2 separate regions of the Homo sapiens genome follow, and region 2 is linked to region 1. A link means that fine-mapping ties the variant in region 1 to the expression of a gene that starts in the linked region. Tissue or cell type: whole blood. Region 1 holds a variant in brackets; the other region holds the start of a gene. All regions are shown on one strand. Distances are between the middles of the regions.

The links. PIP is the estimated chance that this variant, and not a neighbour inherited with it, causes the effect.
Region 2: LMAN2L starts here. The variant in region 1 is fine-mapped to the expression of LMAN2L in whole blood (TOPMed, PIP above 0.99).

Annotation. Positions count from the first base shown.
Region 1 is chr2:96,709,387-96,717,564 of GRCh38, reverse strand. It overlaps LMAN2L (lectin, mannose binding 2 like), which reads left to right. Exons shown (of 8, transcript NM_030805.4): 5 at 5,540-5,701; 6 at 5,795-5,909. Among named protein-coding and RNA genes, the nearest start is that of LMAN2L, 27 kb to the left of the region's middle. The variant A/C (reference allele first, on the strand shown) is at 3,073.
Region 2 is chr2:96,736,298-96,744,475 of GRCh38, reverse strand. LMAN2L (lectin, mannose binding 2 like) reads left to right here and starts at 4,412. Exons shown (of 8, transcript NM_030805.4): 1 at 4,412-4,622; 2 at 6,409-6,527. The coding sequence starts at 4,436. RefSeq lists enhancers at 4,159-5,096, 5,097-6,036.

The sequences.
Region 1 (8,178 bases):
CCTGGCCGTCCTTTTTTTTTTTTTTTTTTTTCCGACACAGGGTTTGGTTTTGTCACCCAGGGTGGAGTGCAGTGGCACAATCACAGCTTAGTGTAGCCTCAACTTCTCAGGCTCAATAGAGCCTCCCATCTCAGCCTCCCAAGTAGCTGGGACTACAGGTGCATGCCACCAAGCCCAGCTATCTTTTTGTAGAGATGGGGTTTTGCCATGTTGCCCAGGTTGGTCTCAAACTCCTAGGGTCAAGCAATCCTCCCACCTTCATTTCCCAAAGTGCTGGGATTATAGGTGTGAGCCACCACACCTGGCCATCCTTTTCTTTAACCTCTTTCTTTGTGTGTGTGTGTCTGTGTGTATGTGTCTTGCGTGTATGTTTGTGCTTGTGTGTCTTTTTTTCTGAACTAAGAGTAAATTGCTCTCATGATGTCTCCTTAATCCTAAATACTTGTGTGTGTGTGTGTGTTTAAAAAAAAAAGTTATTTTATGTAGCCACAGCACAGTGATCAAAATCAGGAAGTTAACATTTGTAACAATACCATTATCTAATCTGCAGGCCTTATTCATATTTCACCTATTGTCCCAATATGTCCTTTATAATGAAAGAAAGTCCCAGATCCTGTGTTGTATTCAGTTGTTACTCTCCTTTAATCTGGAACTATTCTCAGCGTTCTCTTTGTGCTTCAGAGTACATACTGTTTAGACCTGATTTTAAAAAAATAATACATATGAAACATTTTTCCATATTGAGAGATATTGAAAGCAGTGTATCCCAGTGATTGAGTCAGGGCTCTGGAGCCAGAATACTTGGTTTCAAATCCTGATTTCACTACTTAATGCCTGTGTTATCCTGGACAAGTTTTTTACCTGTGAAATGAGGAGTACTGATACTACCTCATAGGATTGTGAGAATTAAATGCAGAAGGGCTCATTACTGAGTTCAGTGCCTGGCACAGACTAAGTGCTCAATAAACACCAGCTATTATTCACACCATTCAGTGGATTCCTAAGGGACATTTTGCAAACATCTTAGTTCTGTTCTCTCTTCCTCTCCCCTCCTTCACTTCTTCACATCTGGGTTCCCAAAAGCAAATGGTCAGCTTACTAGACAATGGTATGGTTTGAGATGGAAACACTGCTCTAAAAGAGTGGCTCCTAGATGCCAGTGTATGAACTCCAGTTGTGTGGTAACAGAGTTTTCACTGGTGCAAGAATCATAATAATGAAGTTCTTTTTCTTAAGTGCTAAATGTATTCAGTTGTTTCATTATGAAATTACATTGTTCTCTCTCATCTTTTGGTGTTAAAGTGTCCCTTTGTAAAATGATGTTTATTATAGATGATTGTTCTGTCATTATTGTATTTTAATATTTTTAGTAGGCAATAAAAAGAAGCCAAATCTAATACTCTCCAAAATATTTTTGGAAATATTAATGGTTGATCACAGCCAGTGGTCTGGGAATTCGTGCTTTAGAAGATGTATGTTTGGCTTTGTGTTTATATATATATGAGTACCTGTGAACGATATTTGTATCTAGAAATACACTAGTCACTGATTGAATGTTTATTGACTCCCTCCTGAACACCAAGACATTGTACTAAATGCTTCGCATATCTCATTTCATCTTCATAATGAACCCTGTGAGCTTTGTATTGTTCTGTTTACAGTGAGGAAATAGAATCTCAAAGAGGTGATGTAATCCACCGAAGGGTTACACAGCTATAAGTGACATAACTGCAGTTAGAACTCAGGTCTCCCTAATTACAGAGGCCATTTGGAATTTTAGCCTAGAATCCATAAATCCACAAGCTAATGGGTGTCTTTTCCATCGAAATATGCTGAAGATACAGTTATCCCGTAGAGGTCTTCAAAAAACACTTTTTTAAAAGTAGTCTTGTAGTACAAAAAGTTGAAAACATTTCTCCACCCTTTAAACAACAGTCCTTTGGATGATAAAACAGGTGAGAGTTTCTCCTTTCTGGTGACTCTTAAATTAGGAATAAAACTACCACCTTGCCTGAACCAGTGTGATTCTTCAATCTTTGGTTCTAACTTACAGAGTGCTTTCTAGGGGAAAAACAAAATTGCTCCTGTGTGAAATTAGTGGTTATCCAAGAAATACTTCCAGGAACTCTTGACTAGGCGTAGAAAATAAGATGGCATTTAGTGACTTACACTAATGTGAGGTTAAAAGTTGAAGGCCAACTCGTGTTGCCGAAGTAGACAGATTCTCTGTAGTTGCAAAGCTGTGAGGCTCCCTGTCTGGTGCAGCGTTTCTTCAATTTGGCTGCACATCACAGCCTTCTGTGGTGCTTTTTAAAAATACATAATCCTGGCTGGGTGCGGTGGCTCACGCCTGTAATCCCAGCACTTTGGGAGGCCAAGACGGGCAGATCACGAGATCAGGAGTTCGAGACCAGCCTGACCAACATGGTGAAACCCCATCTCTACTAAAAATACAAAAATTAGCTGGGCATGGTGGCGAGCGCCTGTAATCCCACCTACTCATAAGGCTGAGGCAGGAGAATTGCTTGAACCCAGGAGGTGGAGGTTGCAGTGAGCCAAGATTTCGCCACTGCACTCCAGCCTGGGTGACAGAGTGAGACTCCATCTCAAAAAAACAAACAAAAAACAATCCTGCACCCCACTCTAGCCATACGAATGAGACTCTTTGACTGAGGGACCCATGTATACGTGCAGTTAACAAGCTCCTTCAGGTGCTCCCAAGGTCCAGCATGCCTCTGGCTGTTACCTGGAACTGGGTCCACACCAGCCTTGGGAAGAGTAAGGCACCCTTAGGCTAAGGATTGCTGTCTCTTTATTATTTGTTTATTTTCTAAGCAAGCTAACATAGGAGATTGCTATCTCTTTAAAGTTGCAACTTAAACTTCTAATCAGGGTTACTAGAGGTGATGAGTGAAGGAAGCCTTGGGCTCATCAGAGCTCCACAGGGCATTTTTAATCCCTTTTTCTTAATTGTCACTGAAATTATGAGCATACTCTCAGATGCCAGTTTCTGTAAACTGCTTGATAACATGCTCACCATTTCCTTGTTCTAAATGGTAGTTGTTGAAGATT[A/C]ACTTCATGCCAGTTTAATCATCCACGGATTGATGTCATGCCTTTCTGTGTCCTGTATGAATTCTGCCAGTGGTGTTAAGAGGAGGACGGCAGGGGATCTGCACTGCAGCCTCGGACTCCTGGCTGTGGCCCATGGAGCCCAGTGCCGTGGGTGCTGCCTTGCCTCATGGCAGCCTCTTCTCACAAGCTGTGATTCTGACTGATCTGTTTCCAGTTCCTTGAATGTGCCACCCTCATGCTTCTTGTGCCCTCAGATCTTTTGGTGGACTCCCTCTAATTACTTGAGTCTCAGCTCAGATATTGCCTCCTCAGGGAGAGGTTCCCTTGCCCATCCCTTGTATTACCTATTTTATTTTCCTTATAGCATTTTTCACTATCTGAAATAATTTTATTTGCTTCTTTGTTGTTTGTTTCTTCCACTCTGATCTTAATTCCATTCCTGTCTGTCTTGTTTCTCTTTGGACCCTCAGCATCTGGAACAGTACCTGGCTTGTAGTAGGTGTTCACCGTATTAAAGGAGTGAAGGGTTTGAGTTCTGTACCCTCGCCTACCTGTCCCACAGGGCAGAGCTGAGCTGAGCTTGTGTAGGTACCTCTTGTCGCTAATGGCTTAGAACTGCAGCTGTTTGCTGGAGCAGAGCTTAATACCCTCACGCCTGATGATTTTCTAAATCTGTCATTCTGCAATGCCTCCATGGAGCTTCTTCCTTGCCTATGTGTGGTAGGTTAGAATGACAATAGTTATTTGGGAATATATGACCATAAGGCTCAGTTAGAGGGTAAGTGATCCCTTTGGATTAGAGTTAGTTTCATAGTCTCTCAAGTGGCAAGATTTTGGTCTTCTGGGCAGGAGCTGTTTCCTGAGATCCTGGATAGTAAAGGATGTCTTGAATTTGGAAGAATTTAGCCCTGTTGTCTCCTCTTTCCCCTTGCTATAGAAATACAGTAGGCTGGGTACAGACAAACTTGAGACTGACTCCCAGAGACATAAGTGCGGCGTGCCTGGACAGCGTACTGCTATGTGTTTTATAAAGTGCCTTCCAAAAGCTTCAGGACCCTCTATGGGTTAGAGCGGTCTTCCTAGGGGACCCCTTTGAGAATCTGATATAGTAACAGACCCTCTCCTCAGAAAAATGTACAAGCACCCGTGCATATGGTTTTGCCTATCATCTTGAGGGTGCAAAGACTTCACGGATGCCCTTCAGGGACCCTAAAATTCTGTTTGGGGATTTAAGTTGGTTTGTTCATCCATCACAGCTGGGTCATAGCTCTTCTGTGGCTGTGTCTTTCTGACTTGGTCTCCTGTCTTCTGTGCCCTCTCTTGTTTTTATCATAACCTGCTGGACCCTCTCAGGCCCAGAAGAGGCGATATTCTCCAGGAGTCCAGGTACTCAGTTCTTGGCTCATCATGAGCATCCCTCATTCCCATGTGTCCATCCAACATTTGTTGCTGTTTCAAGTCCATGTGGTTGTCTCAGGAGTCCCCGGTCTCTGGTCTCGACTGCATCTCCATCTTGCATGTTAACCATTTGGGACAAAGGGACAAATACTCCCCAAAGGAGTGGCATGCCTCATGTTACCCCTTCACCACCTCACTACCCTGCCTTTTTGCACTGCCTTGGCATTGGGCTTGTTCTGGAATGATTAGTTCGCCATTTCTAAGGAAGAATTGCTCCTACAACTCTACTGGGGAGAGAGGGCCCCTGAAATAGATGGGAAAATGAGTGGCTTATGGGAAAACTTGCAATTTTCTCCCTGTTAAGGGAGAACCTTGCCCTCTTATTATTATTCGGAGAAGTTACGTGTGGAGGAGGCTTAAGTGGGCTGGAAAGTCTTTTGACTAAGGACAGTCATTGTGGCTGGCTGAGCCCATCCAGCAACCCCGTTCCATGTTCTGAGTTCTAATCCATTTAGCCTTATATGCTTATAGAATTTTAGAATTGAAAAGAGCTATCCTGAATGGAAAGATTCCCCTGCTCAAACAGGTATTTTCAGAATACCCGCTGTGTGCAGAACCATGGTTGGGAGGAGATGGGGCTGAAGTTTAGACATATGAAGACGTGATGAATGAATTTTTTCTTCAAGAAGCTTATGTGGCAGTTGGGGAGATAGGTACATATACACGAAAAGGAAACCCCTGGTATTAGGCGGCACATAAGTGCCAAATGGTGACCTTGGGGCATTCAAGTCAGACTCCAGCGTCTTAGGAGGACCACTTCAGGCCCACCCCAGTTCAGGAGCCAAGAGAATTACTGAAGGCAAATACCAAGTGTAGTCGCTTCCTGGGCCCATTTCCCTTGAGAGACCATCTGAATGTGGGCTCTCAGGGGCTGCTGACAATGAGGTCGAGTGGCTGCCTATTCTGCTGTAAGGGGCTCAACTTGTATGTGCTGAATTCCTGTTGCTGTTTGTACAGGCGTTCCTATGTGCTCTTCCTTAGTGTCTGCTTCCCCCTCTCTGCTTTCCAGCGGGTATTCCCCTACATCTCAGCCATGGTGAACAACGGCTCCCTCAGCTATGATCATGAGCGGGATGGGCGGCCTACAGAGCTGGGAGGCTGCACAGCCATTGTCCGCAATCTTCATTACGACACCTTCCTGGTGATTCGCTACGTCAAGAGGCATTTGACGGTGAGAGTCCTTGTCCTGGACCAGATGGTGGTGTGGGCTGTGTCGCTCTTGCTCCCATGGCCTGACCCTGATTTATCTCTCTTTTTATTCTAGATAATGATGGATATTGATGGCAAGCATGAGTGGAGGGACTGCATTGAAGTGCCCGGAGTCCGCCTGCCCCGCGGCTACTACTTCGGCACCTCCTCCATCACTGGGGATCTCTCAGGTACTGCCACGCGCACTCTTGGTTTGCCCTGACTGAGGCCTCTTCTCAATACCCACACTTCATTGAGGCCTCTCACAGGGGAGAGCCAGAGGAGCGGTGCTCTGGAAGGAGGTGCCTCAAGACTGCTTCTCCTTCTGCATTCTTATATCCACATTCCTTAAAAACCCACGCCAGGCTTTCCTAGTACAGTTGTCACTAGAAGATGGTTGGTGCTAATAGAAAGCAGTGTTTGTCCCTTCATTAAGCTGGCTCTTCTAGCCTGTATCGTGAGTTCCTTGCTTTCTGATTTCTGCTGTCAGGCTCCTCTCCTTCCAACCACTAATGTTCCCCGTTCCCCTTCCTTAACAAAGCTTTTCCTTGACTTTGCCGTCCCTCTTCTGACCCCAGACTCTCCTTTTGCTGAGACTTTTGAATGTGTTGTGTGTACAGATCCTTTTGTTTCCTAGCTGTCCACCTCCTTAACATGCTGACTCAGACCTGTGCTCTATCTTGCTAGTACACTAACACCATTCTCATGAAAGGTCATTCTGTTTCCTTGCCATATTCAGTACTCTATTCTCGTTCTCACCCTTTGTCCTCCTCAGCTCATTTAACCCATTACCCTGAAACTCTTGCCTTCTTGACTTATGTGACATTAACAGCACCTGGTTCTTTTACTTTTCCATCTCCTCTTGTTTCTTTTTCTACTTATGCCTGATTCGTAGCTTCTCGTTTATACACTTACTCTCTTTGCTTGAACCCCAATCATAACATCTTTTGGGAAGAGAAAAGGAACTGAACTTCTGTTTCTTTTGATTAATATAATTTGTTCTGGATAAAGCTAGTTTGGAATAGAAGTTTCTTGTGGCAAAATAGAAAGGCAGATACCCATCTGAAAAAGCCGACAGCTAGTGAGCTCCAGCCATTGTAGCTAAAAGGAAATGTCAGCTCAGTGAGGCTAAATCTTCCAGTTTTTCAAGAGCAGTTGGAATTCTGGATTTTTTTTTATATATATATATGGAGTCTCGCTCTGTCGCCAGGCTGGGGTGCAGTGGCGCCATGTCAGCTCACTGCAACCTCCACCTCCTGTATTCAAGCGATTCTCCTGCCTCAGCCTCCCAAGTAGCTGGGACTACAGGCGCGCCACCACGCCCAGCTAATTTTTGTATTTTTAGTAGAAACGGGGTTTCACCATGTTGGCCAGGATGGTCTCCATCTCGACCTTGTGATCCGCCCGCCTTGGCCTCCGAAAGTGCTGGGATTACAGGCATGAGCCACTGAGCCCAGCCTGGATAATCTGGATTTTTAAAATGCAATCTGCTGATCTTTAAAACTCTGGCATCTGATTTTTTTAAAATCAACTTTACTGAGGTGTGCTTTCCATACAACAGAAGAATACAGTTTGAAGAGTTTTGACAAATATTTACACCTATGTAGTCACCATCACAATTAAGATATGAATGTTTCCATCACCTGCCAAAAGCCTTATTATCCCCCTTTGCAGTATTCCTCCCCTTCTTGGATTCCAGGCAACCATTGATCTGCTTTCTGTCATGCAGAGAGATTAGTTTTGGCAATTAGGTTCTAAGTACCGAGCAGGCCAGACCTGTGGGAAAAATTTAGTCTCGGCAGGGGGATAGGAGGCATAGGCTGGAGATCTTTGCTATATAATCTCATTATATGACTACACATTTTCCTTTGAGCTTACAGGTTTCTGGGTTAACCTCCTGACGTACTTTTTAATGGAAAGTCCCCAACTGTCAGAAATGGCAGGGGAGAATAATTTTTTGTTTAGTCTAAGTTTTTTGCCCTAGGTCTTTAGTGAGAATACCCAAGTTAGTAAGTCTGTGTTCTCTGCCCATAGGGTATCCCTAAATGCAAGTTGTTTCTTTCTTTTGAGGTCTTTCTTGTTGCCATCCTCTTACTTGTTGTATAGTAGGTTGTTGAAAACTGCTGAGAAAGTTAGGATGTTTCCCAGCCGTTCCAGGCTTTAATGCCCTGCATTGCATGAGGAGCATTGCCCTGGCCTTTTATCCTGTCCCATGGTTTAAACTGAGCTCTGACAGTTAACATTTTTCCAACAGAAGATGAATCCAGTTTTTCACTACCTGGGAATCTGCTAAAGATTCTAGCAGTCCAAGCAGCTGTGGATGCTCTCCTTATAAATGACCAGAAATCCAGGCCCCAGTCAGTAACCAACCTAGTAGCAATGAGCACCCCTAGCACTCAGATTTGTGGTCTCTAAATACCAATTCCCCCTAAAAGGAACTGCAGCTTCCTTGAGAAATGG
Region 2 (8,178 bases), 27 kb before region 1:
GTGATCTCGGCTCACTGCAACCTCCGCCTCCTGGGTTCAAGCAATTCTCCTGCCTCAGCCTTCCAAGTAGCTGGGATTACAGGCACCATGCCTGGCTAATTTTTGTATTTTTAGTAGAGACAGGGTTTCACCATGTTGGCCAGGCTGGTCTCGAACTCCTGACCTCAAATGATTCCGCCCTCCACCCCCACCTCGGCCTCCCAAAGTGCTGGGATTGCAGGTGTGAGCCACCGAGCCCCGCCTGTCCTTCCTTTCCTTTTTTTTTTCTTTTGAGATGGAGTCTCACTCTGTTGCTCAGGCTCGAGTGCAGTGGCATGATCTTGGCTCACTGCAACCTCTTCCTCCTGGGTTCAAGCGATTCTCCTGCCTCAACCTCCCGAGTGGCTGGGACTACAGGTGTGCACTACCACGCTTGGCTAATTTTTGTATTTCTAGTTGAGATGGGGTTTCACTATATTGGCCAGGCTGGTCTCGAACTCCTGACCTCATGATCCACCCGCCTCAGCCTCCCAAAGTACTGGGATTACAGGTATGAGCCACCGGGCCTGGCTCTTCCTTTTCTTTGATACATTCCTCATTAATAAGCATTCTTCCTATTGCAACAGTCTGAACAAAATGATTTGATTTATAGTCCAGTGCATCTCACCTTTCACACCCTTCTCCTTTATTCCCCTTTTCCTCATCACACAGAATTTTACAATGAGATTTCTGCTTGTGTCAATCTATCAGAAATTCAGCTGACAGGGTGCATGACACTGCGAATGAATTTAATGCCTTTGAACTGAACACACATGGTCCTGACTTAATGATGGTTTGACTTAGGATTTTTAGACTTTAGGATGGGTTTAGTTTTTCTGTAGGTAACCCCATTGTAAGTTGAGGACCATCTGTACTTAAAAATTATACGCTGTATTTTATGTATTTTTTTTCTTTTTTTTTTTTGAGACAGAGTTTCACTCTTGTTGCCTAGGCTGGAGTGCAGTGGCGCGATCTTGGCTCACCGCAACCTCCACTTCCCAGGTTCAAGCGATTCTCCTGCCTCAGCCTCCCAACTAGCTGGGATTACAGGCATGCGCCACCACACCCGGCTAATTTTGTATTTTTAGTAGAGACGGGGTTTCTTCATGTTGGTCAGGCTGGTCTCGAACTCCCGACCTCAGATGAGCCACCCACCTCGGCCTCCCAAAGTGCTGGGATTACAGGTGTGAGCCACCGCGCCCGGCCTTTATGTGCATTTTACTACAATTAAAAATTCATCTTGCAGAGAAATGCAATGGAAATAATTTATTCAAAACAATTAGAACCCCTACTATGTGCTGGGTGATAGGTTGGGGTTGGGGAAATGGGTGGGGCCTGAGTTAGGAAATGAGTAAGACCTGCTTCCTGTGGTCCTGGAGCTCCCAGCCTTGCTGCGGAGACAAACCCATAATCTGTTAATTGAGCTCCATAATTCCAGGTGACACACATTACAGTACACATGCGTAGCGCCTGATTTCAGTCAGGATGCAAAGGGCTTTGAATGCTACACTAAGGACTTTGGATTTTGGTAATTGGGAGTTATGAATGGTTTTAAAGCCAGTGTATGACACGAACAGATTCATTGCAATTCCTAAAGTCTTAGCACCAGACATTTGACATTGTAGGGTGTCAAAGACTGATGGCAGTGACAGGCTGGGCACCATGGCTCACACCTGTAATCTCAGCACTTTGAGAGATGAGGTGGGAGGATCGCTTAAGGCCAGAAGTTCAAAACCAGCCTGGGCAACATAGAGACCCCCATCTTTAGAAAAAATTTTAAAAATTAGCTGAGGCTCACCCAGCAGTTTGAGACTGTAGTGAGCTATGATCACAGTACTGCACCCCAGCCTGATGGATTGAGACCCCATTTCTTCTTTTTTTTGTTTTTTTGAGACGGATCTGCTGCTCAGGCTGGAGTATGGTGGTGGGATCTTCTTGACTCACTGCAACCTCTACCTCCTGGGTTCAAGTGATTCTCCTGCCTCAGCCTTCCAAGTATCTGGGATTACAGGCACCTGCCACCACGCCCATTTAATTTTTGTATATATATGTATATATATATTTTTCGAGACGAAGTCTCACTGTGTTGCCCAGGCTGGAGTGCTGTGGTGCGGTCTCGGCTCACTGCAACCTCCGCCTTCTGGGTTCAAGTGATTCTCCTGCCTCAGCCTCCTGAGTAGCTGGGACTACAGGCGTGTGCCACCACGGCTGGCTAATTTTTTGTATTTTTAGTAGAGATGGGGTTTCACCATGTTGGCCAGGATGGTCTTGAACTCCTGACCTCAGGTGATCCGCCTGCCTCCCAAAGTGCTGGGATTACAGGCCTGAGCCACCGTGCCCAGCCAAGACCCCATCTCTTTAAAAAAAATAGCTGTGACAGCTTTAATTTTAAAAAGTTGATCCCCTGTAAAGTAGGCTCATAATTATGTTTATCTTATTAAATATATTCATGCTCAGGAAAGCAAGAGAGTGTTAACTTTGGTTAAGTCTATTGGGAAGACATAAACACAGATCTGTCAATTGCTCTATATGAGATGTGCATGGAACACTTTGAGAGCTCAGACAGGAGAATCTACCCTGCCTGAGAGGTTTGAGAAGGACCTCCAGAAGGAAGTGGACTGCAGAAAAAAAAAAGAGGGAAGGGAAGCTGGAGCATAAAGATGGAGGAAAAGAGTCATGGGCAATAAGGCCAGGGCCAGATGGCAGGGGGCTTTGTGTGCCAAATTGAGGGGCTTGAATCTCCTCCCCACAGGTGATGGTGAGCCATCAAAGGCCCGGTTAATAAGAATGATGATGATGAAATAGCGCTTATGGCTTGGTGCGGTGGCTTACACCTCTAATCCCAGCACTTTGGGAGGCTGAGGAGAGAGGATCACTGAAGTCTAGAAGTATGAGACAAATCTGGGCAACTTAGTGAGACCTCCCCCACAACCCCATAGCTACAAAAAATAAAAATTAGCAAGGTGAGGTGGCACACACCTGTAGTCCCAGCTACTTGAGAGGCTGAAGTGGGAAGATCCCTTGAGTCCAGGAGGTTGAGGCTGTGGTCATGCCACTGCACTCCAGCCTGGGTGACAGAGAGAGACCCTGTCTCAAAAACAAAAACAAAAACAAAAACAAAAAAAAAAAGAAAAGAAAAAAGAAAGAAATAGTGCTTACTACACGCAAGGCACTGTTCTAAGAGGTTTACCAATATTGACTCATTTAACCCTGACACTTACCATGGTTAGATAGTTTGGATCACTTTAGTGGCTACGTGGAGACCAGTCTGGACACATGTTGTGGTGCCGGATAAAGACGAAGGGATGTGCCTGTAGTCCCAGTAACTCAGGAGGCTAAGGTGGCAGGATCACTTCAGCCAGGGAGGGAGAGGCTGGAGCTGAGATTGTGCCACTGCACTCCAGCCTGGGCAACAGAGCAAGACCTTGTCTCTCTTTTTTTTTTTTTTTTTGAGATGGAGTTTTGCTCTATGTGGCCCAGGCTGGAGTGCAATGGCTTGGTCTCGGCTCACTGCAACCTCTGCCTCCCAGGTTCAAGCGATTCTCCTGCCTCAGCCTCCCAGTAGCTGGGATTACAGGCACGTGCCACCACGCCTGGCTAATTTTTTTTTTTATTTTTAATAGAGACGGGGTTTCTCCACCTTGGTCAGGCTGGTCTCGAACTCCCAACCTCAGGTGATCCGCCTGCCTCGGCCTCCCAAAGTGCTGGGATTACAGGCGTGAGCCACCGCGCCTGGCCAAGACCTCGTCTCAAACCAAAAAGAAAAAAAAGAGGAAGGGAGGAAAGGAGGTGATGGCTTTTAGAATTAATTAATTTGTGTGCTTTCAGTTCTTTTATATCTGTAGGTTGCTTGATGGCCCAGACTATCACGGCAAAGGAGTCATTTGCATTTGAAGAGAATGTGTCTTCCGCAGTTGTTAGGTGGAGTTTCTATAAATATCATCAGGTCAAGTTAGTTGGTAGTGCTGTTCAAGTCTTTTATAAATTGATAGTTTTCCAGCTATTTTACGGATTTGTCTATTTCTCCTTTCACTGCTATATCTTCCAAATTGATTCAGAGAGCTGCAGTCAGGAGCGTACTATTGCAGAGAGGATAGAATGTTTGGGACCAGAAGAAACGTTTTATCTCTTTAAATTTACTCTCGTACGCAGAAAACAAAATACAAATAAACTACGTATCCCAGCAAGCCTAGTGGAACTCAGGGCAAATGCAAATAAGGGGGGGGGCTGGGCATTCGGCTACGCCCCTTTTCTGGGTTGGCAAGGCAACTGATACAGAAGCCAGCCAATCGGTGATATAGTCACCTGCAGGGGCGGGGGCTTGACGAAAGCCAATAGGACGCAGGGCAGATGGCTCTTCGGGCCAATGGGTTGGGCGACGGGGCGGGCTTTTGATGAAGGGTCGTTGGTGGGAAAGATGGCGGCGACTCTGGGACCCCTTGGGTCGTGGCAGCAGTGGCGGCGATGTTTGTCGGCTCGGGATGGGTCCAGGATGTTACTCCTTCTTCTTTTGTTGGGGTCTGGGCAGGGGCCACAGCAAGTCGGGGCGGGTCAAACGTTCGAGTACTTGAAACGGGAGCACTCGCTGTCGAAGCCCTACCAGGGTGAGGCGCCCAGGGTGAGGTGGTCGTGCAGTGGGGCGGGCTTCGGGACTTGATTTCAGGGGTAGAGGCGGGGGCGGCGAAGGGCTTCGTGGCCCGGAGGAAACTGCTGGCGGTGGTGGGGCCCACGGAGACTCCCTCCGCGTTTGGGAGCCACAGGTCTGAAAGGCAGGAGTTAGGTGTGCCTGCCAAGCTCTGGAAGTTTCCAGTAGGTAAAGGCAGGGCTGTCGGGTGCCACTAGTACTAGGCCTGGAGTTAGACAGGAGGAGTTTGGGAAGGGGAGAGAATTGAGAATGGTGAGGAGTGATTGAGGGCTACTAGCAATGAGCCAGTCTCCAGATGGACCTGTGGATGTGCTAGAAATAAAGCAGGAGGAAGAACTGGGGTAGAACTTGAACGAAATGAGAAGATGATAAATTTATGTTGCTGGGTAGAACCACCTTCTCTTCTCCAGCCTAGGGGCCCTGTTGGTGAAAGAGGTTAGGGTTCACAGAACTCTAAGCACAGCTTATCAGCCAGAAAATTAATGCAGTTAGCCACAAAACGATGACAAACCAGTGCAGATGGCTTAACTAACACAAGTCTTTCCCCACTAAGGCGTAGGTAGTGGGACAGAAAACAATTCAAAGTGCAAGAGTATACTCTACTACTAAGGGTAATCATTTATTCACTTACATGCCTGGAGTGCCTCTGTGCTGTCTCTTTGCTAATGCTTATGGGTTTGCAGACACAAAGTTTTCATTCTTAAAGAAGTTTATAGGTGAGGGTACAGGGAGTAGCTTCACACTTTAAGGATTGTTTAAAGAAAGAATGTGACGGCTGGGGCGGTGGCTCACGCCTGTAATCTCCGCACTTTGGGAGGCCGAGGTGGGCGGATCACGAGGTCAGGAGATTGAGACCATCCTAGCTAACACGGTGAAACCCCATCTCTGCTGAAAATACAAAAAAATTAGCCAGGTGTGGTGGCGGGCGCCTGTAGTCCCAGCTACTCAGGAGGCTGAGGCAGGAGAATGGCGTGAACCCGGGAGGCAGAGCTTACAGTGAGCCGAGGTCATGCCACTGCACTTCAGCCTGGGCAACAGAGCGAGACTCCATCTCAAAGAAAAAAAAAAAAGGAAGAATGTGACTAAGCCCCGGAGGCCTGAGGGTCAAACTCTTTTTATTTATATTTATATATTTTTAGAGACAAGGTCTTGTTCCGTTGCCTAGGCTGGAGTGCAGTGGCACAATCATGGCTCATGCAGTTTCAATCTCCTGGGCTCAAGCGATGCTCCCAACTCAGCCTCCTGAGTAGCTAGGACTATGGACAAGGACTACCACACCTGGCTAATTTTTTTTTTGGTAAAGACAGGGTCTTTCTATGTTGCCCAGGCTGGTCTCAAATTGCTGACCTCAAGATGCCCTCCCTCCACATCATCTCAAAGTGTGGGGATTACATGGGTGAGCCACTGCACCTGGCCTGTCAAACTCTTTTTGATATAACTCAGGAAAATTTTTTTCTTTTACGATGCTGAAGTTTACTCACATATAAAACGGGAAGAATGGATGTGAGCTATGGTTACTGTAACATGCATAAAGTGAGAGTTCTGATGTGCTTTGGGGTCCTTACCTGATAAAGGCCTTGTGAAAGCTGTAGAGATGGTAAGATTCATGACTGAGAGAAGATAGGAGATTGAGTGACATTAAAGGGGGAAAAAGATGATGGCTCAGCTTTCAGAGGCTCTGTGGTGGCTGCTTTCTGAATGGATTGGTGTTGAAAAGTATGAACTGATCTACTTCCTTCCTGTAGGTGTGGGCACAGGCAGTTCCTCACTGTGGAATCTGATGGGCAATGCCATGGTGATGACCCAGTATATCCGCCTTACCCCAGATATGCAAAGTAAACAGGGTGCCTTGTGGAACCGGGTGGTAAGAATCTTTCTCCCTCCTGTGTTGGTGACCCAGAAAGGCCTAAAAAGTTCAGCAGTGGCATACTGATTTAATTTTACTGTCTATCCCCCTGGTATTCTATCTTCTGTGGATATCAAGGATCTTTATTTTTGAGATTATTCTGACCTTGATAATAAATAAATCAGGTATTTAGGAAAATGCTCTCTATTTAATTATAGCAAATAATTCATTTTTTTTTCCTGAAATGTCGTTAATTCCTGATTGGCCCAATAGTACTACTTCTTAGGGTTTAATAATAACTTAACTCCTGCTTAACCACTTTGTAAGAAGATTATAAGAAGACCAGAGTGCAGTGGCACAATCATAGCTCACTGCAGCCTCAAACTCCTGGGCTTAAGGGCTCCTCCTGCCTCAGCCTCCTGAGTAGCTGAGACTACAGGCATGTGCCACTGCACCTGGCTAATTTTTAAAACGTTTTTTGTAGAGATGGGGTCTTGCTATGTTGCCCAGGCTGGTCTCAAACTCTTGGTCTCAAACAATCCTCCTGCCTTGGCCTCCCAAAGGTCAGGGATTATAGGTGTGAGCCACCGGTCCTGGTTGAGAGTACTCTTAAATTGATCCCAAACCTTATCCCAGCATCCCCATCTTGTTATTTCAATTTGAAGAGTCTGATATAAAATTTTATTTTCATGTGAAAGCCACTCTGAGCTGTTGGTCATTTTATTTGTCCTTCTCTGGACCTTTTCTAGCTGCATTGTCTTCCTTGAGGTATGGCGACAAGAAGTGAATGCAGTATTCCTGGTGTGGCTGCACTGTGATTTTGTACAAGTGTAAGATGATGCTTTCTTTTCTGTTTCCAGGGCTTTCTAAATCTTTTACGACCAGTTTACTTTTGGGCATGACTCTGGCATCCTTTGATACTTTCTCTGGAATTCTCTTAAACTAAGAACTTACTTTTTTACGTGGCTTTTCTCATTAGTTGTAGATAAGCGAATCTCAGAAAAGAGAACGATTTCTTTTCCCTGTTCAGGAGGGCAAGAGAAATTTCTACATTAGCTATCTGCACAAACTGGCCCCTTAACCTAGATCATAGTGCCGAGCTCATTTTTGGACAGAGTACAGAGCATTGTGTTTTCGTAGCAGAGATAAAGGACAGTTGAAAGACTGGGATTCTCGGTCCAGCTCTGTCACAGTCCTCCTGTGAGCCCTAGGCAGATTATTTAACTTCTTAGTTCTGTTTCTCTATCTGATAAATGAGCTTCAGAATACCTGTTTTACTTGCCCACTGGGGTTGTCGTGAGAATAAAATAGGACAATAGACATGAAAAGACTGTGGCAAGTTAAAATGGTTATAGAAATATGTGTTATGTTATTACACTTCTACAGGTTTGTTGATGGGGCTCTTGTGGGTTACCGGATGATTATGTTCAAGGCTTGATACTCTGCTGCTGTCTTGCTGGCTGTCTGTCTCTACATAACTTGTAGCAGCAGTTCTAGTATAGCCTCTAGTTCTTCCCTTTTTCGACTTCTGATACCTGTATTCGCTGTTATCTGGCTATCACCATGACTATGGGCTTGTTTCTGAGTTATTTGAATAGGATGCATTTGTTTCAGCAGTGGTTCTCAAATTTGGCTATCCATTGGAATCAATGCCTGGGTCTCATCCCCA